4 linked regions of the Homo sapiens genome follow. Each later gene encodes a partner of the first gene's protein in a complex. Each region holds a gene or a part of one and is shown in the gene's direction. Other genes may lie near its edges.

Region 1 (7,024 bases):
CTGGCACGCCAGGGAGTTGTGGAACCACCTCCCGATGGTCTCTTCTCTGTGAGGGAGGAGGCGGGGGGGTCTTTGGGAAATCCCAGAGGGACTGGACAAGGGTGTGATGGGTGGGGACTTGGGGCTGGTGGGTGTGGGTTTAGAGGTCCCCAGGCGGCCTCCCCCTGAACGTCCCAGCGCCCCCAGAGCAGGTGTGCGAGCACTGATGGGATTTCCTGCATTTCTGTGTTAAGGGAAACAGATGGCCAAGCCTCGGGGGGCAGTGATTCTGGGGACTGGATCTTCACAATCCGAGAAAAAGATCCCAAGAATCTCGAGAATGGAGCTCTTCAGCCATCGGACTTGGACAGAAATAAGGTACGTCTGCTCACTCCAGAATGGCCACGCTGACCTCAGTCTGCAGTGTTTTGGAGGCACTTGTGTGTGAAGCTTGCTGTGGGTGCGGCTGGGGTCCTTTGTGGCAGCTGTCCTGGAATTTTGTTGCTAGGGGATGGGCAGATGAAGAGCTTTAGTTCTGTCTGATGATCCAGGTGTTCACACCAGGGAGTCTGGCCTCTGGTCTGTTTTGTGCCACTCTATTCTGCTCTCTGCAGCCCTGCTGTTGAGTTAGGATGTCCCGATGTGGCAATGTCATGGGGTTTGGGGGTGACCCGTGAAATGACTTCATAGCTCTGAGGGACTGTTGTGCATGTTGCGGTTACTTACATACATATCATAATTTTGTGACTGAGTTTTAAGGACCTTATAAGTAAATGCATTGCTTTTGATATTTATGTAAAACAATTTTGATTAATTGGTTTTATGCCTGTTAAATTTATGAAAGGCCATATATTTAGGGTCTTGTAAAGCATAGTGGTGTAGTTTCTTTCAGGCAGGGTGGGCCAGTGGCTGTCCCCTGTTGATCCTACAAGTCCCGCTTTGATAAGTGAACAGGTGTTAAATGTCCAAATAGAGGTTGCAAAAGTAGAAACTCGGTCTCTGTCCTAGACAGCCATTGGAATGGCCAATCTTGACCTGATTTCTATTTCCAGGGTTTCATTAGTAAAGTACTTTTCTCTCTCTCTCTCTCTCTCTCTTTTTTTTTTTTGAGACGGGGTCTCTGTTGCCCAGGCTGGAGTGCAGTGGTGCCATCAGAGCTCACTGTAGCCTCAAACTCCTGGGCTCAAGTGATCCTCCCACCTCAGCCTCCTGAGTAACTGGGATTGCAGGCATGTGACATCACGCCCAGTTTATTTAAAACTTTTTTTTTTTTTAATAGAAACATGGTCTCACTATGTTGCCCAAGCTGGTCTCGAACTCTTGGGCTCAAGTGATCCTCCTGCTTCGGCTTCCCAAAGTGTTGGAATGACAGGCATGAGCCACCACGCCCAACCAGTAAAGCACTTCTGCGTAGATAGCAAGACGAGGCAGTTCACCGCCTGTGCCCACACAGAGTCCCCTTCCACATGGAACCCAGATGCTGGTTTCCCCGGTGCGTGGGTTTTGCATGTCACTGCAGATGAAACTTTGAAGTCTAGTGAGAGGCAGCCGATAGTCTCCTTCAGATGTTATGGTGCGCAGAGGGTGTTTCCTCAGCGTGAAGTGTAGAGGCAACTCCTGCGCTTCCATAGTCCAGGTGGGAGGTTTATTAAATTATTGCCAATGTGAACGTCAACTGTTTCTGATGACCTTTTTTTCCCTCTCCCCCAAGATGAAAGACATCCCGAAGAGGCCTTTCTCTCAGTGTTTATCTACAATTATTTCTCCTCTGTTTGCAGAGGTAGGTACCTGGCTGGCCTTTTCGGAGTGGGAGGGGAGGGGGAAGGAGAAGCTGGACACACTTCAGTGGTGATGTTGCCAGTTAAGAGTTGGGGACATTAAGACAAGCTGGCAAAGGCTCGGAAAGCCTGCATGGTGCCTTCCCAAAGGCTGTCAGCACCACCTTGCGCCTCCCCTGTCCTGGGTGATGCCCACTCCGCCGCAGCCTGGAATGTGTAGACTGGATGACAGTGACCCAGCCCGAGACCCTGTGTCACCCGTTGCCCTGCTTTTTAGCAAATCTCATTGTGTACAGCCTGCTCTCTTTGCCTCAGACCAATTTCTGGCCATGTGAAAAGTAGATTCTTTCTTCTAAGGAGACGTTGGATGCCCTGGAGTCCTCCGGTTTCCCCTGAGCCACATGTTTCACTGAAGTCCCTCCTCTGCTCAGCAGTGCTGTGCTCCCAGCTGGGCCTCCCCACGCCCACTCCCTGCTCAGCCTCTCCCTCCCAGAGGAAAGTGCTCCCGTGGCCGTGTTTTGAGAGATTTTCAAAAGTAGGCTTTATAAGAATGAAGATTGTTCTGCATCTGGTTAGTAGCGGATTTGAAAATAAGTTGGAAGTCCCCTCTTTTCTTGTTGTGCCCCTTCCTGGCTGAGGCTGCCTTTGAGGTACTCACTGTGGGCCACACACGCATCTGTTTGCGTGGGGATCTTCCCTCTTTGGGCAGTTTTCCACTGCGGCTGTGTTTAGGGGTCCTGGTCCTTGAAGGGGAGGTGCTCAGGAGAGGAAGTGTCATAGGAGCTCATTCTCCTCCCCTGTGCCTGCGTCACGCAGCGGGGGACCCCCGGCCATGGGCCGTGCCTGGCCAGCCACGGTCCTGCCAGTGCCTCTTCCCAGCCCTCCAATAAGCCTTCACCTGTTGCCCTGCCCAGCAGGTGCCCTGGAGGGTTTGTCTGAGGGCCTCTGACCTGGCAAGTTCAGGGCCCGGTGGGAGCAGGGCTGTGGCCAGAGCCCGAGGCCTCACCTGCAGCTTCAAGTGGGAAGTAGCCGAGCCCGCTGGTGTCGGGGAAGCCACAGGGCACGCGGAGGCCCTGCTGGATGATGTCTGGCTTCAGCCCTGGCTCATGGTTCTGGGCACCTGTGTTCTTCCTAACTAGGATGTCCGGGTTGAGCGCCATCCTGCGCTTCATTTTGTCCCATGGGAGTTGGCCCCGTGGGATTTCCAGGCTGTGCTCCTGCGGCCCTGCCATTGGCCGCTGGAATAGGGTCAGTCAGGCAGTTAGGGAAAGTGCATGGACTTTTTCATTCTCCTGAGGCTGTTTATTTTTTTACTGGGCCCATGAAGCAACTTTGACATAATTATTCAGGACATATCCTAAACGCCGTCATATCCTGGATTTTCCAGGTAACCAATTGCTAAACTCACAGGCATCTTTCCCAATGTATTTTTAAGAATGATATTTGCTACCCTAGAGTTCAGAGTGTTTATTGTGTATTATTTCATACAATACTTGTAGAAGCCCAGTAGAAGGATTATATCCCCATGCTTACAGATGAGGACATTGAGGAGACGGGTGTTGGCGTCCCTGCTTTCCTTCAGGGAGCACAGGTCAGGTTGCTCCCTGAAGTCAGTGATGGGTCCAGCACGTTCCACACGGCAAGGGGACAGGCCCTCTCCCAGGGCGGCCCTTCTGCCGCCTTTGCTCCTTCTTTGAGACTTAGGGGCGGGGCATGGGCAGGAGGGAGAGTGCTGGATTGTAGCTGACCCTCTCGGGACTTGTAAATACTGTCAAGTGATTGGGAGTCCTAGACAAACACGAGTGGCCGCCTCGGGGCCGGCGGCGTGGCCCTGTGACAGCAAGAACTTCAGGAACAAATGCTCTCTACACCCACTGGCCCTCCAAGGTCAGACCCTTCTAGTTCCTGCCTGCCCCTTCAGTAGCGAAGAGAGAAGCCGTTGCTCTTAGGGCAGGGCTGGGTTTGGAAATGACAGCATGTGTTCAACAACCTGAAAACCAAGCTGAATGTCGCCTGAGATGTTTCTTTCTTCCCTGAAGAGGAGGCGGTGTCCATCACAAAGAGCCTCTTCTGTTGAGTTCTGAGCCATGCTGTATCTTGACTTGAACAGCTCTTATTTTCACAGTTCACGTTTTTGGGCCTCCAGAGAGAGACTTGGAGTTGACCTTCAACTGAGGGAAGTGTCTGAAGGCACTGTTGTGATTTCTCTTGGGAGTAGAGGTGCCAGGAAGAACACTGGAGATTCCCAGAATTTAAGGCTGCCACTTATTTACATGAAATCAAATATTTTGACTCTACTCTGGATCACAAAGGCAGTTTGCTGGAGTTTAAGAACCAACCCATTAACATTAGGAAGTAAGCAGTGTTGAGATCAGAATAACTTAGGATAGGCTTTGAAATTGCTTTTCTGGTACAAGGTTATGGTTGAAATAGGAAAACAGCACAGAGAGGACAGTCCATCACGGTGAGACTTGGGAAAGGCACACAGAGAGCTAGTCGTCTCTGTTCTGGCCTCGAACAGTAATGATTATGGTCTGATGATTGCCCTGTGTATACATAACTGCTCTCAGAGCATTTGAATCACCTTTCTTCAAAAGGAACCCGGGCCGGGCACAGTGGCTCACGCCTGTAATCCCAACACTTTGAGAGGCCGAGGCGGGCGGATCACTTGAGGTCAGGAGTTCAAGACCAGCCTGGCCAACATGGTGAAATCCTGTCTCTATTAAAAATACAAAAACTAGCTGGGCATGGAGGCAGGGGCCTGTAATCCCAGCTACTCGGGAGGCTGAGGCAGGAGAATCGCTGGAACCCAGGAGGCGGAGGTTGCAGTGAGCTGAGATCACGCCACTGTACTCCAGCCTGAGCAACAAAGCCAGACTCCGTCTCACAAAAAAAAAAAAAAAAAAAAGCAATTTGAAGTGGCCTGGAGCCCTAGCCAAAGCTTTTCCCGGACACCCTGGGGCTGGGGTAGTGTCGTGGTCCACACGCCGTGTTGTTCCTTGAACAGCATGCTTCCCAGTTTTGCAGCTGGTGTGCTTCATGCCATTCTTCCTGTTCGTGTGTTTTCAGTTGAAGGAGAAGAGCCAGGCGTGCGGAGGGAACTTGGGGTCCATTGAAGAGCTGCGAGGGGCCATCTACCTAGCGGAGGAGGCGTGCCCTGGCATCTCCGACACCATGGTGGCCCAGCTCGTGCAGCGGCTCCAGAGGTAACTACCCAGGGCCCCTCTGGGCTGGGGAAGGAGAGACCTGCACTTGGGCTGGGACTTAGTTGATGAGTTTGGTACTTGATTCTTGGCCTGTCTGTTCCTGTTATCTTGCAGGCCTCAGGGTAGACAGAGTTGAATTAGAGGAGACTTTGTTCTGAATTCTAGAAATCAATGTGAATGAAGGATCTGAATCTGGAAACTACTGGAAAGCCCACAGGACTTAGTGCATTTGTAGCTTTTGCCACATAAATACAGGGTGGTGGTGAAATACCTGTTTCCTCTTAATTATGCAGCTTAATTATTGGCCAGAGAATGATCGTTCTTAGCCAGATGTGTGTAACTATCTATCTGGTTTTCGGCTTTAAAGTCAAGTGTGAGAAATGACAGCAGCTTTGGTGTGGTCAACTCAGCGGGAGCGGGCGCAGGTGTGTTCCCTGTGTTAGCTGTGTGTGTCATGTCTGGAAGCCTCCTTGGTAGGGGTTCATCTGTGCCAGCCTGTAGGGAGCTTTTGTCCCTGCCCAGTGGCCCCACCTGTTGAATGCACTATGGGTGAGGACTCAGTGGGGTGACAGTTTTGCCCTCCCTGCCCCCTCCCAACTTGTTGTAGGAGTATCCATGGGAACCAAGCCCCTCCTGACTGCCATCTGGCACAAGTGCAGGCGTTTGGAGGCAGTGGATGTGTGCTGGGAAGCCGCTCTGTGTGACCTGAGGGTGATTTGTCACTGGGCTGTCCTCCACACCCCCAGGAGGACCAGGCGTGCTGCTGCCTTGACAGTTCATCTTCAGGTGTCCAGGCTGACACCTCCCAAAGCTGGCTGAGACTCTGTGATCATGAGGGGGATTTCTGGGTCTTTCCTGAGACTGCGTCCCACCTGACAGTACATAAAGAAGTTTTGCACACGTGAGGTCCCTTTTGCTATTTGGAAGTGATTGAAGGGGCTGCCTACTGTCCTGTGAAGAGCCCCTCTACGTGGGGACAGCAGGAGAAAACCACAGTTCTGATACTTCACGTTTATGCTTCTGAACTCGGGTTTCTTAGTAAGACATTTCAACTTTTTAAGTTGCTAGAAAATAAAAATGATCTACTTGGCTGCCTTCAATTTTGAGGCAATTGAAGGACGATCCCTCCCTCCTTTGATACTAAAAACAATATAGGAATAAAGGAAAATAGAATTAAAAAGTCACCCATCTTTTGCCTGAACACAAACTTTTTGATTTCTCAAACTTAGCATCACATACCTCATTCTAGAGGCATTTATTTCCCATTAGAAAGAGCTTTATAATAAAACAAATAGAACAAAACCAGAAACGGGTAGGATTGTTACTGTCTTGTTGGGCATTTTGCTCTCTGCTTTTGTAGTATTACTTTTAAAACCAATACTTTCCACACTGTCCAGAATTGCCTGAAATTGTTATGAACTGTTTGTTTATATACGTGACTTGATTTCCCCAGGGCAGCTCCAGGGCACAGAGTGTGTGGCTTGTATGTGTTGAACTGATCCACGTTTCCCATTCCCAGGCCCCTATCTCTCTGTTCCTCTTCTTTTAGTTGTTAAGGCAAGTTGATCTGTACCAGTGCTGGCCAGTAGAAGTACAGCGTGGGCCACACACAGAATTTTATGTTTTCTGCTGGATGTGGTGGCTCATGCCTGTAATCCCAATGCTTTGGGAGGCCCAGGCAGGAGGATCGCTTGAGGCCAAGAGTTTGAGACCAGCCTGGGCAAAATAGCAAGACCCTGTCTCTACCAAAAAAAAAAAATTTAGCTAGGCATGGTGGCTTGTACCTGTGGCCCTAGCTACTTGGGAGGCTGAGGCTGCAGAATTGTTCGAGCTGAGGAGTTCGCGGCTATGGCTGTGATCACGTTTGCACTCCAGGCTGGGCAACAGAGTGAGAACCTGTCTCTAAAAACCAAACAAAAAGAGAATTTTACATTTTCTAGTAGCCATATTTTTAAAAAGCAAAAAGAAGTGAAATTAGTTTCAACAATACATTTTTTAACCTGCCAGATCCAAAGTATTATTTCAACATTAATAACAACAATCATCAATAAGGTATTTTAC
Region 2 (7,024 bases), on another chromosome or scaffold:
AATTTAACCAGGACCACATGCTTGTCATCTCTCTGATGCAAATTTTCAAAATCATTTTAATTTAGATTCTAATGTCTGCCTGGGTTTTTAACAGGCTGTGAACCAGTGAGTGCCTTGTTAATGTAGAATGATTTTTCCCCCCTGGGTGGGTGTTAGTTAGCTCCTCTCTGAAAATGTCTCAGAGAATGGTATTTTAATTGACTTGTAGAGAGCTGCTAAATTTGTTATTATCAGCAATCAGAAAGTCTTTGGTCTACCACACATCTCCCTCCCTACTATCTCTTCATTGTTTGGCTGAAGTTTGCCTCTTGTGAGAAAACAATACAACTCCCCTTCTCCACACACTTTTTTTCCAGCCCAGATTAATAGGTATCCCCTACCCTAATCCCAACTCTATGATCTAATACCTTTTTTAGGAGGAACCACTTCTTTTTAATATTGAAATCTGCTGGTTACTTTATGTTTTCTCAAGTTCAGTTGACTAGAGCTGACCACAGGGTGTCATCAATTCAGATTCCTAAATAACCCTTTCTCTCCACACCCAGTCCTCCAGCTGGTGAGCCCTGGGCCAGATTGTTTGATCTTCAGGTATTTTAAATTTTAGTTACATCAATTAATGTAAATTAATCCAAATGCTAATTTTTGTGGTGCAAGAAGTTTCTTATGTAAATTCAGGGTATGGATAAGCTAATTAAGATATCCATCTTTGGTGGCTCTAAGTGTATTATTTGTTTTTAAATAAAGTGTACAAATATAGATAACATGCTATAGGTGTCTCATGAATTGGAATATTTGTCAGATTTGGGATCTAGCTGTGGCTTTACAGTAATCAGTTAAATTAACATAGTCTGATTTGGGGCTTTTGGGGGAGGAGTTGTAGAGGGGTGCAGAGAAATAAAAGGATATTAGACAAAGTATACATGAGTCCAAAATTAATGAACCAGTCTTAATTACTGATTGTGAGGAAGGAGAAGTTTATAGAGAATTTGGGCCTCTGAAAAGCCAAATTAAAATAGCTTCTAGGATTGGGTCAGTGGTACTTTCAGAGACACATATGTTTAATGAATAGGTTTTATGTTTTTCAAATGTTCAGTTTAAATGGCTTTTAAAATTTATACACATATATAAATACAATGTTTTTATTTTTTGTTTCGCTACTTAACAGACATACACAAGCCTTCCACACTCCCTGCCCCTTCAAATCAACATTATTTTTCAAGGCCTTTGGCCTGCCCAGAACTCACAGTCTTTTTGTTCCAATCAGGATCCACAATACAATATGAAATTTAAAAGGCATCTCTTCTGATATCCTTGAAACTATCCACCATTGTTTGGTGTTCTGTATGCTGGTATACTAATGAGTATTATATCCTTTGGTATGTACACACATTTTCAGTAGTGTTGGAAACACCTCTTTTATCTTTTTAATGAGAACTGAGACATGATTAGCTTGAGTAATTTTGGAGATCTATCTCAGGAGGTCATTAAAACTCCAAAAATTATTCACGGATTGATGAACCTCCTGGGGTCAGCCTAAGATTGCCAGGTAGTATTCTGACCTCCTCTGGGTTTCCCAAGATCACTGATGTTTTGCAGGGCCCCAGCATTGTCCTGGCACATAAAATATTCCCAGAACACCTTGGGAGTCAAGCATACCTTTTAACCTAAACATTATAATCATGGAGCATCCCTCCGCCTGTTACTTCTCAGGATGACCAGAACACTCCAGTTCTCTAAGGAAGCACTGACATACGGCTCTGAAAATTGGAATCCGTTTTCTGAAACACAAATTTTAACTCAGTAAGTTTTGTATATCAAATGATTCAAAACCCACCAAACATAAAATGACTCGCTTCTAAGTATCACTCAAACCCTACAAAACCTAACCCTTTCCTTATTCCTAATTGATATTTCACTAAAGGTAATGGTAGTTTCAGTTAGATTGGAAGTCATTATTTGGGTGAGCAAAGTCTGCAATAACCTACTGATAGGAAGGACCTATTTCATAGAAAAGTATCTTGTCCTTGGTGATTTAGCCATTCACCTTACGTGAAGAGTGGTCCAGATGCCAGCTCCACATTGACTTTTTCTGTGTCCCTCTTTAGGTAATTAACCCAGTGATGTAAAGGAGAGCCCACAGTAAAACATCTGTTAAACAGCACTTGGAGTACTATAGTGTTATTAATTTATGTGCTATAATTTCTTATGCCATCATAAAATCTAGTGTATGTACCAGGTTCCCAATTCATTGCCTCAAACAAAAGATTTTTAAAAATTCTAATAGCATCAAATTAAGGGTAATGGTAGGGAAACCCATCATCCACAATTAAATATGCCCAAACTGAAAACTTTAAGAAAAAAAAGCACATGGAAAGCAACGTTTTACATTAATCGTGAGTTGTAGAAATAAACAGCTTGTGGTTTGTATATGTGCCGAAATGTTAAAGTATGCTGGCATCCAACTACTTCCCTTTGGAAATGGGACCAAGACAATAATTTTTCATGCATAAACAAAATTAACTTAGAGCAAAAGTAATTTTATCAGAAACAGTTTATTTTGGGGGCTGGATAACTTGGGTGAGAGTGTGGGGAAAGAAGTACCTTACCAAAAAGGAGAAGCAACTGACCCTGTGGCCTGAGCCACATTGTCTTCCATTTCAACTTCAATGGGCTGGCAGTATACCACTTCTGACCTCAAAGAATGAATGGTTCCAATTCTGGCTTGTCATTGGTCCTTGTTATCTAAATTAAATATTTTTAGGAAATATATCAAAAGTATCCTAGAGCCCCATGGCAAAGTGTCAGAGGAAATAGTTTTCATTATATTTTAGGAAGCTGTAAAAATATAAGCCCAAGTATTTTGTGTCATCTGCATATGTCAGGATGAAGACCAGGCATGTAAGAAATATCCTAAAGTAGCCAAGTGATAATCTCATGAAAAAATATGAGAATCGTTTTTACAGAGTGAGTTCTCTTTTGAATGGTTTTGACTATGCTTTTAAAAACATTTTTAAAATGTACTTACATCTTTTTCGATAGCCCACGTATTTCAGAATATCCTCTTGATAGAATAATATCACTCAGTGTGATTTTTAGAAAAAGAAAAACTCGGTGGTCTCATATCTTTTGACAGTTGTTTGTGAATAATACCCTCCCCAACAACCTTCCCAGTACTCAACTGCTATGTAAGAATGCTTTCTTATGTGGTAAATGTCTCAGTATTTTGCTGCCTGGTATTTGTTCAGTTTCCTTGTATATCTCAGGGTCAGAAGGAATCAGGCTTTCTCCCAACTCTGAAACATTCAGACTTACTTTCTTTTTGGTCAGCCTTTTAACAAGCAAGACAATAAACTCCTTTTGTCAGAATCGATTTGATTAAAAAAAAAAAAAAAGAATGTGCTCCTTATTTCTCATTGCTGTAGAATACGTAGGAATACACATCTACTAATCACAATTAAAAAATAAGAGAATCTTTAGAAACATCATTGCTTTCTGGAGGTAGAAATTTTGAACTTGAAGGTTGTAGTTCCAGGCAATTTTGTGCCCTTGAGGTGTCCAATTGATAGTATAGCTTGCCTCTGCTAATAAATACACAAAAGTTTTCTTTCCTGTGATTTTCAGAAATTATTTTTGGAATACAAAGATTAATAAGGAATATGTGATGTTTATCTCCTGCATTTCAAAATCTTCTGGATTTTTTTTGAGGCATGAGGAGCAGGTAATGAGATTTTTTTTCTGAATATCTTGATTCTCTCCCTTAACCCAGATTTTGCATATTATGCATTGCTCATTTGTCACCTACAAAAATAAAGGTTAATGATTATTTGTTTGCTTTTGTCTATATAAGCTCCCTAAGGCACAGACCATGTTCGTTTTTCTTATGTTCCTCTTAGCACTGTGCCTGGTGCCTTGCCATATAAAAGGTACCCTATAAATATTTGTTGGCTGAGTAATCAGAGAGCCCATTTCAAAATCTAAATTATACAAATCATCAAAGACCAAAAAAAAAAAAAAAAAATCTCTTGACAGTTGATGCTCAAATGCATTTGGTTCTGTGGAGCTTATCCTGAGATTGAGGTCTGCACCTTGACTGGAGAGGAATTTGGACTTTACCTCACAGGTAGCAACAAAATGCCTGAGTAGCAACGTCTTTATACTGCACAGTTCCAGTCCTGCCTGCGTGAAAACTGAGCAGAGCATGGTGGGGACAGGAAGGTGTCCCTAAACCCTGTTGATGACCTCCCATCTATCCCCGGACCCCCATATCTCCTCTGCTCATCCCCTGTTCCCCACTGGCCTCTGATCAGTTGAAAGGGAGCTTTTCTAGCCTGGAACCTGAGCCTGCCTTGATTATCCTGGGCTCAGAACAGGTCCACTTCCACACTCTTTCCTTGCAACCTACAGATGGCCCTACTGACTGCTGTTGTCCAGGAGAAAGACGAACCTCCCAGTGGAATCTTGTCAGGAAAGGCATCCCTCTGGGGAGCTTTCTTTGGAGAGGAAAATTCTGGGACAAAGTTCCTCAGGATGCTCTCAGGCTGGTTTTTGTCTTGAAGATTTTATAGTAATTGTACCAATGTTTATTAACTCTCCTAGGAACATCTCTGTCTTTGGTTTTCTGACAGCACTCCAGCAGGGCCCAGGGCTTTAGCTGAACAGTGCAATTGTTTTAGGAATAAAACAGTCAACAAGTTAGAGACCAACTATTTATATTTAATATTCAAATGACTTTAAATCATTAAAAGAATCAGCAAATTACATATGAAATATTCAACGAATAATCTCAACATTAAACATATACCATGTAAGAACTGTCATTAAAATTACTAAAAATATGATTCCTTTAAGATCAGTTCAACACAGAAGAAAGCAGGAATTTGGCCTGGACAATAGGACATTTATTGTCTGTTAGATTTTAGACAAGTCAACTCTTCTAAATTGGCTTCTCATCTATGAAATGGGGATAATAGATCTGCCTAATTAGGTTGATTTGAGATAACGGATGTAAAACACCTAATAAAATAAGCATCCAGCAAATGACTTGTTCACTCTCTGAATACAGACTTCTGGTCATGTAGTTCGGTCACACTCCTGATAGCTTCTAGAACATCAGGGTTTTAGGAGAAATAGGTTAAAATGAACATCAAGAGTAGCAGAAGACTACTTTCCTTAATATTTGAGTGCCAGCTATATGCCACACAGTTCTAGTTGCTGGCAGTCAGCAGTAAACAAAAACTTCACCTGATGCAGCACATTCCAGGTGGGGGAACAAGTGAAAATATAGGGAATATTAGTGATAAGTGCAGAGGGAAAAAAAATAGAGCAGGGAAGGGGGATGATTTGATGTTTTTCAGGTTAAGAAAGTGACAGAAATGAATTTAAATGCAAAAAACAATGCATAAAGATTCATAATGGCAAAACGAAGCATGTCCCATCATACCCCTTCATTCCTACCTCCCTGATATGTATCTTTCTAATTATTCATACAAATGTGTATACCCAGTTATTACATATGGGGTTTTATTCTACATATTATGCTGCACTTGCTTTTTCTAATATAATGTGTATCATGAGCACCTTACAAATTTTTAAAGGTCTCTCAAATTTATCAGTAAACATATACAGTCTAACGTTAATGAGAAGATATTTTGGTGGGCAGTTTGCTTTAAATAAATGGGATCATGTACGTTCTCTGCATCTCACATTTCTCATTTAACAATGTAGGATGAGAATTTCTCTAAGTCTATCATAGCTCTTATTTCCTTTTTATTATTACAATAAACATTCCTGTGTATATGTTTGTCACCATGATGGTTTTACGTCTGCGGAATAGATTCCCTGGAGTAGGATTGCTGCATTGAGGAGTATGTATATTTAAATTTTTAAATAAATATTGACAGATTGTTTCCCAAAGTGGCCGGAACAGTTTTTATTTCCATCAGTAAATGTATAAAAACACTTTTCCCTTAATACTCATGGCAATAACTATTGTAACATTAAAAAATACGTAGAAAAAAGAAAAAAATCCTGGTGGATGTAGTGATTTTTCAGTGTTATTTTAATTTCCATTTTCCTGACTACTATAAATGTAGACATCTTTTCAAATGTTTTGGTCATCTGGATTGCACTCAGAACTGAATTATCTATTCAAAGTTCTGTAGGTTAGAACTCCAGGGAAACTCAACTGGGCTGTCTGTTCAAGGCCCAACAAGGCTGAAATGAAAGTGTCTTCCAGGGTGGGTACTCAACTAAAGCTCTGAGGAGGAATTCGCTTCCAGCCTCATTAAAGTCAGAGGATGGAGGTCCCTGTCTCCTAGCTGACTGTCAAATCTGATCCTTTAGAGGTTGCTCCGTGGTCCTTGCACGTGGTCCCTTCCACCTTCAAAGCTTGCCAGGGTGCATCAAATTATTTTTATACTTTGACTCTACTTCTACCAGCCAGAGAAAACTGCTTTTAAAGGGCTCTTGTGACTAGTTTAAGCACACCCAGATTGTTAAGGTCAACTGATTAGTAGCTTTAATTACATCTGCCAAGTCCCTCTGCCCTGCAATGTAACATCAACCATGGAAGTAACATGAGGGGCAGAGTTCATGGGGGCCATCTTAGAATTCTGCCTACCACAAATATTCGTAGTTATACTTTTATATACATTTTTAAATTTTTCTTATTTTTGGTCCATATGTTTGTACCGTTTGTCTTTTTAGTTAACTAGTTTGTGAAAGCATTTTGTATGTTGTACAATATATGTTCAGATTTTCTTATCTTGGATGCAAACATTTTTTTCCAACTCTTGTAAGTTGTCTGTTGACCACATTCAAAAGTACTTTTTCCAAATAAAACTTTGCCTTTTGAATTTCACTTGAGTGAATTGCATATTTGCATTTTAAAATGTTTATTTTGTTATTTTATTAAAGTTTTGCCCATGTTCCACTGTGTTTTTTAAAATTTGCAGGTGCTCTTTTTATACTACATGTAAACCCTTTTTCTTACTATTTGCCAGTGTTTTTCTCCAAAACTATATTA
Region 3 (7,024 bases), on another chromosome or scaffold:
GTTAACATGTATTTCCAGGTTACTGATCCAGCAAAATTATAAGAAACATTAAAATTCTCTGAAAATTTCAGTTTTTTCCCTTTTTTCAAAGAGAAAAACAATTATAGGAGACTTCTCCTGGCTTCACAGTTTCTGGATGCTGTGTTTTTGTTAACTGTAACACTTTGAAATAGCATTTGCTAAAAACCTTTTTTCTTTCTCTCTTTTTTGGTGATGTGGCAGAGAGAAAGACATTGAGATGTTCCTTGAGTCCAGCCGCAGCAAATTTATAGGTTACACTCTAGGCAGGTGAGTAAAAGCCGAGTTCATTTTGCTGTTAGCTCTCCCGGCCTTTGGTGTTTGGGATCCCAGGTGATTTGATGTCGAGGCTCAACACAGGGCCTTCTTTATTCTCCAGTGACACGAACACAGTGGTGGGGCTGCCCAGGCCAATCCACGAAAGCATCAAGACTCTGAAACAGGTGAGTGGCTTTGGGTGAGCTTTTGGCTTGTTTGGTCCTAAGTGAGTAGAGTGAAACCAGCCTGTAGGGAGAAGCCTTTTAAGACTGTTGTCTGCCTGCAAGAACCTGGGGTAGAGGCCGGGGTGGACTTTGCAATAACCTTGCAAACAGTCTTTCGTAAGTTTTGCTTGTTTTATTATAAGTTTTACTTGTTTTAGCTGAGCTTTTGTTTGGGACTGACTGGGAAGTCTTTAAAGATTATATTACCTGACCACCGGGCACCAAGGCATGCACCTGTAGTCCCAGCTACTCAAGAGGTTGATGCAGGAGGATTGTTTGAGCACAGGAGATCAAGGCTACAGTGAGCTATGATCATGGTCCTGCACTCTAGCCTGGGCCACAGAGTGAGACCCGGATTCTTTAAAAAAAAAAAAAAAAAAAAAAAGGATTATATTACTTGACAGTTGTTGAAATTCTAAAGAGCTCAATAAATAGCCCTCCTTTTCCTTGCCCACGTTCTCAGGCGGTTGAAATAGAGGAGTAGGCAGATGGAGATTGTAATGCCAACTTTATAGCTCATAGAGCCATGGAGAATGAGGCTTAAGAACACAGCAGTAGTGTCCTAATACGTTGTTCCAGAATTAGGCAGAGTTACCTACCAGTCCCAGGCAGTGTGGGGAGGCTCTGCCAAGCTTGGTGGCGGGGAGGAGAAGAGAGCAGACTCTCAGCAGGCAGACAGGTTCTAAAGAGAAAAGAGAAGGGTGAGGACAAGTCCGCCCTGTGTCCCCTCCCATACTCTCCGATCAGAGAAGGGAGGAGTGAGTGTGTGGACGGGGCAGAGAGAGATGAGGGGTGTTTCGCAAACCCCTGTCCCTCCACACGGGAGAGAACATTAAGAGTGGGGAAGAGGCATCTCCCCTAACAGCTATCTGGAGTGAAACTGTTTTTATGTTTTTGAAATATATTTTTGGAATTTGTAGTACTAAGTGGTCTCTCTGCAGCTAGGCTTTTTGAGTACTTGATTTTGCTTTCAGTTTTTCTCCTGTTGCTGTAGCTATCTGAAAGGCCATTTCCCTCCTTTAATTTACTTTTTTCTTATCTACCATGGGCTTCTTACTGTAGTTGCAAGAGGAAGGGGCCCTTTTAGAAAAATATTTTGGGGCCAGGCATGGTGGCTCACGCCTATAATCCCAGCACTTTGAGAGGCCAAGGTGGGTGGATCACCTAAGGTCAGGAGTTCAAGACCAGCCTCACCAACATGGCAAAATCCCATCTCTACTAAAAATACAAAAATTAGCCAGGTGTGGTGGTGCACACCTGTAGTCCCAGCTACTTGGGAGGCTGGAGCAGGAAAATTGCTTGAACCTGGGAGGCGGAGGTGGCAGTGAGCCAAGATCATGCCACTGCACTCCAGTCTGGGCAACAGAGGAAGACTTCATCTCAAAAAAATAAAAATAAAAAATATCTGGGGTTTGGGATTTTAGCTAGGGATTTTTGTGGTGACTTAATCCTCTTTCAGAAGACTGTGTTTGAAGACAAATGTGTGGGGATTTTGCTAGAGTGCAGGGAGTTTGGCCAGAGAATGTTTTCCCCAGCCCTTCTTTTCCCATCTCTCCCACCAGCACAAGTACACGTCGATTGCAGAGGTCCAGGCACAGATGGAGGAGGAATACCTCCGCTCCCCTCTCTCAGGGGTAAGTTGGAGGTCCTCAGTCCGGGCGCGGTGGCTCACGCCTGTAATCCCAGCACTTTGGGAGGCCGAGGAGGGCAGATCATGAGGTCAGGAGATTGAGACCATCCTGGCTAACATGGTGAAACCCCGTCTCTACTAAAAAAAAAAAAATTAGCCAGCCGTGGTGGCGGGCGCCTGTAGTCCCAGCTATTCAGGAGGCTGAGGCAGAAGAATGACGTGAACCCGGGAGGCGGAGCTTGTAGTGAGCCGAGATAGCGCCACTGCACTCCAGCCTGGGCGACAGAGCGAGACCATCTCAAAAAAAAAAGTTAGAGGTCCTCTTCAGCCCCCGGGATCCCCAGCTCTTCCCAGGCATTGTGCTGGGATTAGACCACAAGGTTGCCCCAGGCCCTGCCCTCAAAGAGCTCCCAGTCCACCTCCCAGTGCACAGGCTGAGACACGTCTAGTGCAGGGTTAAGAATACAGACTGAGTCAGGAACCTGCCTCTGATGCCTGGGTCCACCACTTTATGGATGGCAACTTAGGCAAGTTACTGGGTCTCTCTATGCTTTATTTCCTTGTCTGTGAAATAGGAATAATAATACCTTTATAGGGTTATAATAATAAGGATGAACTGAGTTATTACAAGTAAAATGCTTGGCACATTGTTTGTGTTCAGGGTTTGCTGTTATCATCATTAACATCATTATGTACATCACTGTTTACAGGTTTTCCTCCAGCCAGCTAGGAAGCTGGCTCAGGAGATTGTATTCTGGGCTGGGGTTTTATGCTTGTACTCATTATGTTAAAAGGGAGAAGAAGAAGTTGAGCAAGTCCCTGCAGAAACCCTCTACCAAGGCTTGCTCCCCAGCCTGCCTCAGTATATGGTGAGTGGTGCCTGCAGTGGGACACTCCCACTACACTGGCCTTAGAGCAGGCCCTGCCGTCCTCCTGCCACCTGCAGACCAACAGGAGGACTGCTCAGAGCTTAATTTTGACCCTGGGCTCTCAGACCTGTGTCTGAATGGTCTACTCTTCCCAGATTGCCCTCCTGAAGATCCTGTTGGCTGCAGCACCCACCTCAAAAGCCAAAACAGACTCAATCAACATCCTAGCGGACGTCTTGCCTGAGGAGATGCCGTGAGTATCATTCTGTGAATGAAGCAGGTGGGGCAGAAGATAGATGGAGAAGGGCAAACATTTTCCTCTTGTCAGGTTGGTTGTTGTTGGCCCAGCTCTACAGGTTAAATGTAGGTATTTTTGACCCAAAAAAAGGAAACTACGAGATTAAAGAGTTTCACTGGTTGGGGAGATGGCTTGGTCCTGTTGGCCTGGATTCTAGTGTAGACTCTACCACTGAGCAAACTCCTGAGTGAATTGGGGAAAGTCATTTCCTCCTCTGTAAAATGAATGGGGCCACCCTGGACATTTCCCCAAAGCCCCACTCTCCAGCTGTGATTGAGACACCCAGGATGAGGAGGGTTAGTTTGTAGACAGCTTGCCAGCAACAGCTGAACCTGTGCCAGGTATAGAGACATCCCTTTTCGCCAGTGATTGGGCACGCAGAATGCTGGCAAATGTCTCAGGGCGATAGAGTGAGATTCTTCAGAGCTCTTCTGCCCTGTGCCCTGTACTTGTCTTTCATGTGAGAGTCCAGATTGAGATCATGTTCTACTTTGAGAAGGACCTGGACCTTGACCTGATCTTCTGCCTGCCTGGGCCACCAGCCCTGAGCCCAGCTCCTGGGTGGCTGTGGCCCCGGAGTATGGCAGTGATGGCCGGCTGAGGGAGGAGGCAGGGGTTGGCTAACACCAGAGGGAGGATCACAGAACACTAGGCCATCATGTGATGGTCCTTGGAAAAAAGGTTCTAGAGTCAAATACTGTATATTTGATTCATGGATTTCTCTTATAAGGAGGAATTCCTCTTACAAAGATGTACAATGAGAAGTCCTGAATTAAGAAACCAATGTAACTCAGTGCTTCCTAAATTTATCTTACTCCAAAACCCTTTTTTTCCATGACATGAAACTTGCCAATATCCTGGTATTCCACAGAACACATTTGGAGAACTCAGGTTAATATGGCAGCAGAAGCTTAGGGGAGATCTTGGAAAGGAGAAGAAGTTCATTTTTGGAGGAAAGGCAGAGAAACAGACTGAGAATGTATTTGAGGGCATCATGGGGAAGAAATAAATTGTGCGAGGCTACATTGCTTGGGAGGTGGATGGGGGAGCCCTCGGCTGACTTCTGAGATGTCCTTGGGGTGAGTGGGGAGGTAGGAGTCTTTGCCCAGGGAGGCTCCGGAGTCCATCTTTTCTGTGGGCACCTAGAAATGAGGTACTGCGCATGCTGGTGGCTTACCCAGGCAATTATGTTTCCAGCACCACAGTGTTGCAGAGCATGAAGCTGGGGGTGGATGTAAACCGCCACAAAGAGGTCATTGTTAAGGCCATTTCTGCTGTCCTGCTGCTGCTGCTCAAGCACTTTAAGTTGAACCATGTCTACCAGGTACCCACAGGGCTTTCCCTCCTGTCCTGTGGGCTGGGGCCTCGGGCACTGCTGCTCCTCCAGCCCACAAGAACGGGGGCCTTGGCCTTTGACCCACTTGAACTCTGCATGAATGTTCTAAGACATGGCCCTTCAGCCAAGGCCTTTCATCCCTGGAGGAAAGAGGGCAAGGTCCCAAGGGCCGCGCCTTTTTTTTTTTTTTTTTTTCCTGTTGGCTTCAGTTTGAATACATGGCCCAGCACCTGGTGTTTGCCAACTGCATTCCTTTGATCCTAAAGTTCTTCAATCAAAACATCATGTCCTACATCACTGCCAAGAACAGGTGATGAGGGCCAGGGACCATGAAGGGGTGGATATGGTCAGACGGCAGAGTTCCCAGCTGGTATTTCCCACTGTGTCCATTTTTCCAGCACCTACGAGCCAGCACTGTGCTAGGCATCAAGACATAAAGATAAATGAGACATGGCCTCTGCCTGTGGAGAGCCCACTGTGTCAAATCTGAGTCTAGCTAGTCCTGCCCCAGGTGACTTGGTCTGTGCCTGGGCAGGAGGGTTTTCATCCCAGGATCTAGTACTTTCCTCCCTGTCCCTTCTGTACTTTTTTTTTTTTTTTTTGAGGAGTCCATGGGCTGCTTGCTGTCTCTAAGGGGCTCGGCCATGTGCCTTGTAATGCCCTATCTGCTGACTCTTAGCCCCTGCTGTTGGCCTGGTGCCAGCTGTGCTTGACATTACTTGCTCGTCAGTGTGATATACCACAGGGCGCCGGCCAGACCCTGTCTCCAGAAAGGTTTGGCATAAATTAGTTGCCCTGAGCTATCTCCTCCCCCGCCCCACATTGATTGCTGTGGGGGAAGCTGTGAGGGTCTCTTCCCCTTACAAGATCAACAAGCTGGCCTCTGGCTACAGGGGTGCTTTACAAGTTCTCTTGTAACAGATATTTCCTCATCTTATAGGTGGGGAAACTGGGGTGGGACACATCAGGTAGATTCCTACTTCTGCTCCAACAAGTGAGGGAGGAAAGCTGGGAGCTGGCTCAGGCACGGCTGCTCCACCAGGCCCTGGGCCTTTGCTCATGGTGGGCATCTGGTTCCTCTCCCCTCTGCAGCATTTCTGTCCTGGATTACCCTCACTGCGTGGTGCATGAGCTGCCAGAGCTGACGGCGGAGAGTTTGGTGAGTGGCTGGGCTCTCCTCAGCTGTCCTTTTGGCACCAGGGTCAGTGGGTAGAGAGCCTGCCTACCCCAACACTGCAGGAATAGAGGTGTCTCCCGCAGGTGAAATCACTGTGGAGTGCCCGGCTTTTAAAGCACTGTAAGTGTACAGAAGGGCCAGGAGGAGGGCTCTTGCAGAGCAGAGAGATTTGGATTTAGGGATTAGTCAGGGAGTGTGGTCTTCAGGGGCTGCTGATCCAGAGCTCACCTAGTAGAGGGCTTCTCTCCCTCAACACTGGACTCGGCAGTAGGAGCTCTGGGGCAGCCCAAGGCCACAGCTCCCAGTATCATGGTTCATATTTCCTGCAGGAAAAGTCTAGGGAGCCTCCCTCTTCCCCTAGTCCCCTGCCAGCTTCTGGGATGGAGTCCTGGGGCTGCTCTGAGAGCAGGGGATTCCTGGTAGAGGCCTGGAGACCCGGCTGTCCTGAGATCATGTGTGAGGGACTTTTGGAAACTGCTGCACACACTGCAGCCATGAGGGCTGATTGTTCCTGGGTTTACCCTGCAGGAAGCAGGTGACAGTAACCAATTTTGCTGGAGGAACCTCTTTTCTTGTATCAATCTGCTTCGGATCTTGAACAAGCTGACAAAGTGGAAGCATTCAAGGACAATGGTAAGTGAGTCAGTGTAGTCAGCAGGCTTGGAACTTGGAGCTCAAAGAAGAGTGCTGGGAGCAGGGAGTCCCCAGGGTGGGGCTCACTGTGCCTTCTCACTTAACTTTGCTGTAGCCGTATCCTTGCATTTTAAGGGCCAATTCCCAGTTCCTTGATGAATTGAACTGGAAGCTGGAAGAGGCCCAGTCATGCACTGAAACAAATCTACATTTATAGAAGAACTTTTTCCATGTCGTCTTAATCTTGATTGGTAACATAATCAGGGTTCTGAGAATCTTCCTTAACTCTGGGTCTGTGGATGCCTTTGGGGTGGGGAGGTCCTTGAATCCTCTGATAACTGTGTGTACATGTACACCGGAATGTTTCTGGAAGGAATCCATAGCTTTCTTCAGATTCCAAAGTGACACATAGTTAGGGTGACCAACCATCCTGGTTTGTCTGGAACTCTACTGGTTTTAGCATTTAAAGTCCTATGTATCAGGAAACTCTTCAGTCCAAGGGAAACTGGGATGGTTTGTCACCCTGACAGTAACTTCCAAAGGGTTAAGCAGCAGTGTGACCTGGGATGTATGCATTTATT
Region 4 (7,080 bases), on another chromosome or scaffold:
TCAGAGAGATAAGAAGGATGCAGGGTCGAGAACCGAGGTCTCCGCTTCTGAGGCCCTGGCTCTTGCCACACTGTCTGACTGACTCTGGGCCAGGAAGGAGGTGCCCAGCAGGGCAGAGGACAGCAGCCAGGTCCTGGCTACCCTCAGGCCCAGCACAACTCTTGGCCCTCGCAGACCAGACACCAGCAGATTTGATGGCCAGATGAAGAGGTGCCACCTGCTGGTGAGGGTGTGAGGGAACCTGAGGCGGGGAAAGGAATCATCTAGTACCCTGATAAAGCCATGCAGACTTCACCGCCTCTAAGGGCAACAAACCCCTTCGTTGGGGCAAAGTGGATACAATGATGATTTTGAAGGTCTGAATGTTCTACATTTTTCTGAATCGGGAGGATAATAATAACAATTCTAGCAGCTCACCATGTGCCAGGCCCTGTTCTAAGCACTTTAGGCATATTCACTTGTTTAATCCTCGTGTTATGATCACATTTAAAAATGGAAACCAGCCGATGTGGTGGCTCATGCCTGTAATCCCAGCACTTTGGGAGGATGAGGCTGGGGGAGATTGCTTGAGCCTGGGAGTTTGAGACCAGCATGGACTGGTAAGACCCCGTCTCTACAAAAAAATTTAAAAAATTAGCCGGGCATGGTGGTGTGCACCTGTAGTCCCAGCTACTCTGGTGGCTGAAGTGGTAGGATTACTTGAGTCTAGGAGGCAGAGGTTGCAGTGAGTTGAGATTGTGCCACTGCACTCCAGCCTGGGTGACAGAGCCAGACTCTTTTTTTTTTTTTTTTTTGAGACGGAGTCTCGCTTTGTCACCAGGCTAGAGTGCTGTGGCACAATCTCGGCTCGCTGCAACCTCCAACTCCCTGGTTCAAGGGATTCCCCTGCCTCCGCCTCCTGAGTAGCTGGGATTACAGGCATGCGCCACCATGCCCGGCTAATTTTTGTATTTTTAGTAGAGATGGGGTTTCACTATGTTGGCCAGGATGGTCTCAATCTCCTGACCTCGTGATCCGCCCGCCTCAGCCTCCCAAAGTGCTGGGATTACAGGCGTGAGCCACCGCGCCTGGCCTCGAGACCTTATCTCAAAAAAAAAAAAAAAAAAAAAGGAAACAAAGGCACAGAGAGTTAAAGAGTTAAAGTCTCTTATTCAAGGTCACACAATGTGAAGTAGTGGACCCAAGAGTTGATCCAAGAAGCTGGCTACAGAGTCGTACTTTAAACCAGTAAACTTTACCTTCTCTCTTGGGTTCTTTCTGAAGCCCCAACTCTCAGCCCATCTTTAGTGAGCCTTCCCCAGCCCTAACCTGACAGGGGCTTTCAAAGCTTGGCTATGGCACATTAATAAATTAATTCAACTCAGTAACTCAACAAACTCAAGTATTCTTTGTGGTGGACCCCATGTTTTGAGGATACAGAATGAACGAGGTACTCATTAGGTCAGCCCTCCAGAAGACAGAAAGAAGACTGACAGGGCCACGTGTGGTGGCTCACACCTGTAATCTCAGTACTTTGGGAGGCCCAGGCGGTCAGATCACCTGAGGTCAGGAGTTAGAGACCAGCGTGGGCAATATGGTGAAACCCCCTCTCTACCAAAAAATACAAAGATTAGCTGGGCATGGTGGTGCGCACCTGTAATCCCAGCTATTGGGGAGGCTGAGGTGTGAGAATCACTTGAACTCAGGAGGCGGAGGTTGCAGTGAGCCGAGATTGCTCCACTTCACTCTAGCCTGGGTGAGACCCTGTCTCAAAACAAACAAACAAACAAAAAAAAGACGGACAAAAGCCATGCAACTTACAGACAGGGCAGGAAACCAGCAGGGGGCGCAAGAGTAGAAACAGGGGGCTTGCCTTAGAAATGGTAGTCAGAGGGGACAGTTACTCTGAGAGTTTACTTGTCTCTCCAGTCCCCACAAAACAAGGTAAATGAATCCAAATTCTCTTCAGGCCTTGGGTTCACTGGGTCTGAGTTGCGATTTGGCCTGAGCCTCAGTCCCTGCACCTGTGGAATGGGAATGTGACGGTTAGAAAAAAATGAGAGGGCTGGGCGCGGTGGCTCACGCCTGTAATTCTAGCATTCTGGGAGGCCGAGGCGGGCGGATCACGAGGTCAGAAGTTCGAGACCAGCCTGCCAACAAGGTGAAACCCCATCTCTATTAAAAATACAAAAAATTAGCCGGGCGTGGTGGCAGGTGCCTGTAATCCCAGCTACTCGGGAGGCTGAGGCAGGAGAATCGCTTGAACCAGGGAGGTGGAGGTTGCAGTGAGCCATGACCGCGCCACTGCATTTCAGCCCGGGCAACAGAGCGACACTCCGTCTCAAAAAAGAAAGAAAGAAAAAGAAAAAAATGAGAGACATGGGAAAGCCTTAAGGAATGAGGAAGGGCAGTTTCCATGAGAGTGTAGGTGACACTGAGGGACTTCTTACCTCCTAGGTTGTAGGCTGGGGGAGTTCCAGGAGGGCAGTTCCAGCCCAGCTGAGCTGCGCTCCTGAGAGGAGGAGAACCAGAAAATCCCAAATCAGCCATTTCCGTACAATAGAGCACAATTTCATCTTATCCACAAAAGTGGCAAGAGAAAGGTCAGGGAATCCTTTCTCTTGAAGTCCTATAATCTCGGGCACCACCTGGGGTGTCTCAGGAGTGGGGTGGGGTGAATGGGAGGGATGTCAGTTATTATAGCAACCTATAACCATCCCTCTAGCATGAATGTGTCCAGAAAAGGTAGGGCTAGAAGCCAACAGAAGCTGTTACCATGACAACCCCTTCCATAGACACACTCTACCTCTGAGAGACATTCTTAAAACATCCCCTGGCCGGGCGTGATGGCTCACACCTGTAATCCCAGCACTTTGGGAGGCCGAGGCGGGCCTGAGGCAGATCACCTGAGGTCGGGAGTTCAAGACCAGCGTGACCAACATGGAGAAACCCCGTCTTTACTAAAAATAAAAAAAAAATTAGCCGGGCGTGGTGGCGCATGCCTGTAATCCCAGCTACTTGGGAGGGTGAGGCAGGAGAACGGCTTGAACCGGGGAGGCGGAGGTTGTGGTGAGCCGAGATTGGGCCATTGCATCCCAGCCTGGGCAACAAGAGTTACACTCTGTCTCAAAAAAAAAAAAAAAAAAAAAAATCCCCTCCTTTGTTGGGCTTGGTTCCTAGGGTCACTCGAAGGGGGCTGCTCTATTATCATAGTAACCAGGCCTTGAACTTGCCTGTTTCTCACCTTCCGGAGGAAGGTCCAGGCCCTGTAACCATAGCAACTGCCCCTCAGCAGAGCATCTCCTCTAAATAAAAACACCTGGTTAGTTTGGTGCATGGGCCTCCCACGATGGGAAGGGGAAGACGGTTACCATGGTAATGCCAACTAGGTGGCTATGGGGGAGGGGCTGGGGAAGAGGTGCTTCTCTTAGAGATCAGTGTCCTTGGGGCTGGGGTCCTTTCTACCTGAATGCTAGGTGGGGGGGAGGTTGCCATAGTAATCAATGAGGATAGGAGCAGAAGGACCACCACGGACACTTAGGTTACCTTAGCAACCTTCTCCTGGTGCAGAGTCCTAAGAGGTTTGGGGCTCCATAACCACAAAGGTGGAAGCGAGGGGAAGGCTGCTCCCCACCACCTCGCCCCCACCGCTGGGGAAGGGTTACCATGACAACCAACCTGGCCGGCAATCAGAGAGGATGGGGCCACTGCTGGTCGCCCTTTCTCTCAGAGTAAAAGTAATTGTCCAGGAGAGTGGTGTTTGGGTGTGGAAGGGGTAAGGCTCTTTCTCTGGGGCGAAGTGGGAGGAGGGGGGCAGAAAGCGGCCCCTTCCTCAGTCTCACTCCAGCGAGGGGGACCGTCGCGCGGGGCCTGGGTCTCCCTCGCCCTCCTCGGGGCGCGATCTCCCACCCGCCGGCCCCCGCGCGGGCACGCTACCCTTCGGTGTAGACCCGGGTGGGCGAGGCTCGCGCTCGCCGCCGGCCCCCCTTCCTACTGTCCCCCGCCGGGCGCGCGCGCGGTGGTTGCGGCGGGGGAGGGGGGGGGGTGTTGGCGCGGCCGCGCAGGCGCGCGAGGCACAGCGGGCGCGCAGGCCGGCCCCGGGGCCTCCATGATGGAGGAGCGAGCGGCCGCCGCGGTCGCCGCCGCCGCCTCCTCCTGCCGTCCGCTCGGCTCAGGCGCGGGCCCTGGCCCCACTGGGGCGGCCCCGGTCTCCGCCCCTGCCCCCGGGCCGGGCCCGGCAGGTAAGGGAGGCGGCGGCGGAGGCAGCCCCGGGCCCACGGCGGGCCCGGAGCCCCTGAGCCTGCCGGGGATCCTGCACTTTATCCAGCACGAGTGGGCGCGCTTCGAAGCCGAGAAAGCCCGCTGGGAGGCCGAGCGCGCCGAGTTACAGGTGAGCGCTGTCCCGGGACCCCCGACCCCCAACCCGGCCCGGCCCGGCCCGGCCTCACCCGCTGCCGCCGCCGCCGCCATCTTGGAGCAATGGCCGCCGGGACGGCCGGCGGGGGGGCGGGAGGGGACCGCGACGGTCCCGGAGGGCGAGTGAGGGGCCGTCCGAGGGGTGTCCTGAGGGCACTCCGGGGTGGGACGGGACCGGGACGGCCCGAGGTGGGAGTGGAGGGACCGGGGGTGGGAGGGATCACCGGGACCGGCCGAGAGAAAGGGGCGGAGGGACCACAACCAGCTGGGAGTGGGACTGGGACTGGGACTGAGCACGCTGGCCGCGGGGCTCCTGAGAGAGGCGACTCGAGCCCTGGAGGGGAGGCTAAGAGAACTCGGGAAAGGGTGTGGAGAGGAGCTGGAGGGGTCTGGGAGACCTGAGTGGTCTCCTGTGGGAGTAAGCAGAAGCTTGCCGGGCGCCGAGGGACTCCCGACCCCGACCCCGACCATGGCCCTAGCCAGGTGCAGGTTGGAGGTGGGAGCGTCCAAGGGGGGAACTTGGGACCCGCTGGGAAAGAGCGGGTCCAGATGGGGAACCGGGAGGATTTAGGGAGAGGAAGTCGGGAACCTGGGATCGGTGTGTTTCGGGGCGACTGGACGGTGGGCACGGAAGGAGGGCTGTGTAAGGACCCGAGGGGTGGGAGGAGGGTTTCAAGGGGTCCAGGATGAAGGTGTGTGCCTTCCCCTCTGAGGAGAAACTTTGGGGATCCCGGGCATGTGTGGCTGCACAGTGCAGGGAAGGGTTCTTTGGAGTGGAAGTGTGGACAGAGCAGGGAATGTACCCTAGGAGCCTGGATGGGAGAGCTTAAGAGTGGAAGTTCCACTTTGGGGGTGTGCAGGAGTGGGCGCGATGGCACTGAGATGGCACGTGTGTTGTAGGATGTAGGTAGAGAGCCCTGAACTGGAGTGTGGGGTGTTGGGCATGTCCAGTATGGAGGTGAGGGTCCTGGGATGGTGCCAATGAGGACGAGTTAGGGGTTACCCTGGGGTGATGCTTTAGGGGGGAGAATTTTGTAGAGCCCGAAGGCAACATGAGGAGGCATCTCGGAACGGGGGTAGACTGGGGTTGGGGGGAAGGGGATATGTTTGTGGAAGTCTTGGGAAAAGACCCCGTGGTTTTTGGGGTAGCTTGGGACAGGGATGTTGAATGGAAGAGTCTGAGGAGTTGGGCTAGGGTTTGTGACCTCGTGGAGCGTCAGGTCCATTGGCAGTGACTGGAGGACCATGGAGATGTCCGGATTTGAAGGGATCAGGAATGGCCCGCTGGAAGTCTGAAGATTCTTGGACTGGGTTATTATTAGCAGAAATTGTCATTACCTGCTTGTAGCAGCCCACCTTTCCCCTTCCGATTTGCCGTTTGCTATCTAGTAGGAAGCTGGTACCCAAATAAATAGCTGATGAGAATTGTGTCGGTAGGGATGGGGTGCGGTGGCTCACGCCTGTAATCCCAACACTTGGGGAGGTTGAGGTGGGAGAATCCCTTGAGCCCAGGAGTTCGAGGCCAGCCTGGCCAACATAGCAAGACCTCATCTCTACAAAAAAGTACAAAAATTAGCCGGGTGTGGTGACATGCGCCTGTAGTCCCAGCTACTCAGGAGGCTGAGGTGGGAGGATTGCTTAAACCCCGGAGGTTGAGGCTGCGGTGAGCCATGATTGCACCACTGCACTCCAGCCTGGGCAAAAGAGTGAGATCCTGTCTCAAAAAAAAGCATTTTGTTCATAGGATGAGTAAAGACCCTCCAGTAACTCTCCCCCTGCCCTCACTTGTGGTGGCTGAGGCTTGGGGCTGGGATGGGAGCAGAATCCTTATGTAACTGCTCTCACTTCTGTCCCACTCTCTACTTCCGAAGCTCTTTCCCAGCATACATCTCATCAGATCTTCACAATGCCCTGTGATGTAGGCAGAGGCAGTGTCATTACCTCACTCAGCAATAACGGTACCAGCTGCAATTTAGTGAGCACATACCATGTCTGGGGCGCTGTATCAAGTACTGTAGATACGAGCTGTCATTTAATTCTTGCAGCATTCTGGGAGGATAAAGGATATTCCCCCTACCTTTAAAAAAAATCAGGAGAGGAAATGGAGGTTTTGAGAGGGTGATTTATCTAGGATCCCAGCAGATGAGCAGAAGGGCTGGTCTGTGGTGGACCTTTTGTTTATTTATTTATTTATTTATTTATTTTTATTTTTATTTTTTTGAGACAGAGTCTCACTCTGTCACCCAGGGTGGAGTGCAGTGGCATGATCTTGGCTCATTGCAACCACTGCCTCCCAGGTTCAAGCGATTCTCCTGCCTCAGCCTCGCAAGTAGCTGGGATTACAGGTGTGCACCACCACCACGCCTGGCTGATTTTTGTATTTTTAGTAGAGATGGGGTTTTGCCACGTTGGTCAGGCTGGTTTCGAACTCCTGGCCTCAAGAGATCCACCTGCCTCGGCCTCCCAAAGTGCTGGGATTACAGGCATAAGCCACCATGCCCGACCGTCGGTAGACTTTTAAGCCCATGTTCTGTACCTCTCTGCTACCCAGTACAGTTGAGAAAATTGGTTCAGGCAAGCATAGTGGCCTCCCCAGGGTCACCCAAGCAGTCATAGCAGAGCTTGGACTGAATCTTGGCCTCTGGGACTTTGCACCAGTGCACCGCACAGCACCCACCACACCAT

Evidence for each region.
Region 2: STK24 (region 1) and STRN share a complex: the UniProt entries of both Homo sapiens proteins name them as parts of the core of STRIPAK complex.
Region 3: STK24 (region 1) and STRIP1 share a complex: the UniProt entries of both Homo sapiens proteins name them as parts of the core of STRIPAK complex.
Region 4: STK24 (region 1) and STRN4 share a complex: the UniProt entries of both Homo sapiens proteins name them as parts of the core of STRIPAK complex.

Annotation. Positions count from the first base shown.
Region 1 is NC_000013.11:98,455,107-98,462,130, reverse strand, and holds part of STK24 (serine/threonine-protein kinase 24 isoform b precursor), read left to right. Parts: intron 1-233; coding exon 234-357; intron 358-1,690; coding exon 1,691-1,759; intron 1,760-4,826; coding exon 4,827-4,963; intron 4,964-6,954; exon of another isoform or gene 6,955-7,024. UniProt on the Homo sapiens protein: Serine/threonine-protein kinase that acts on both serine and threonine residues and promotes apoptosis in response to stress stimuli and caspase activation.
Region 2 is NC_000002.12:36,837,533-36,844,556, reverse strand, and holds the end of STRN (striatin), read left to right. Parts: 3' UTR 1-6,859; downstream 6,860-7,024. UniProt on the Homo sapiens protein: Calmodulin-binding scaffolding protein which is the center of the striatin-interacting phosphatase and kinase (STRIPAK) complexes.
Region 3 is NC_000001.11:110,044,618-110,051,641, forward strand, and holds part of STRIP1 (striatin-interacting protein 1), read left to right. Parts: exon of another isoform or gene 1-70; intron 71-222; coding exon 223-288; intron 289-397; coding exon 398-461; intron 462-2,062; coding exon 2,063-2,134; intron 2,135-2,924; coding exon 2,925-2,999; intron 3,000-3,154; coding exon 3,155-3,252; intron 3,253-4,494; coding exon 4,495-4,621; intron 4,622-4,842; coding exon 4,843-4,943; intron 4,944-5,725; coding exon 5,726-5,792; intron 5,793-6,338; coding exon 6,339-6,443; intron 6,444-7,024. UniProt on the Homo sapiens protein: Plays a role in the regulation of cell morphology and cytoskeletal organization. Required in the cortical actin filament dynamics and cell shape. Part of the striatin-interacting phosphatase and kinase (STRIPAK) complexes.
Region 4 is NC_000019.10:46,743,438-46,750,517, reverse strand, and holds the start of STRN4 (striatin-4), read left to right. Parts: upstream 1-4,067; 5' UTR 4,068-4,087; coding exon 4,088-4,369; intron 4,370-4,427; exon of another isoform or gene 4,428-4,461; intron 4,462-5,733; exon of another isoform or gene 5,734-5,758; intron 5,759-7,080. UniProt on the Homo sapiens protein: Calmodulin-binding scaffolding protein which is the center of the striatin-interacting phosphatase and kinase (STRIPAK) complexes.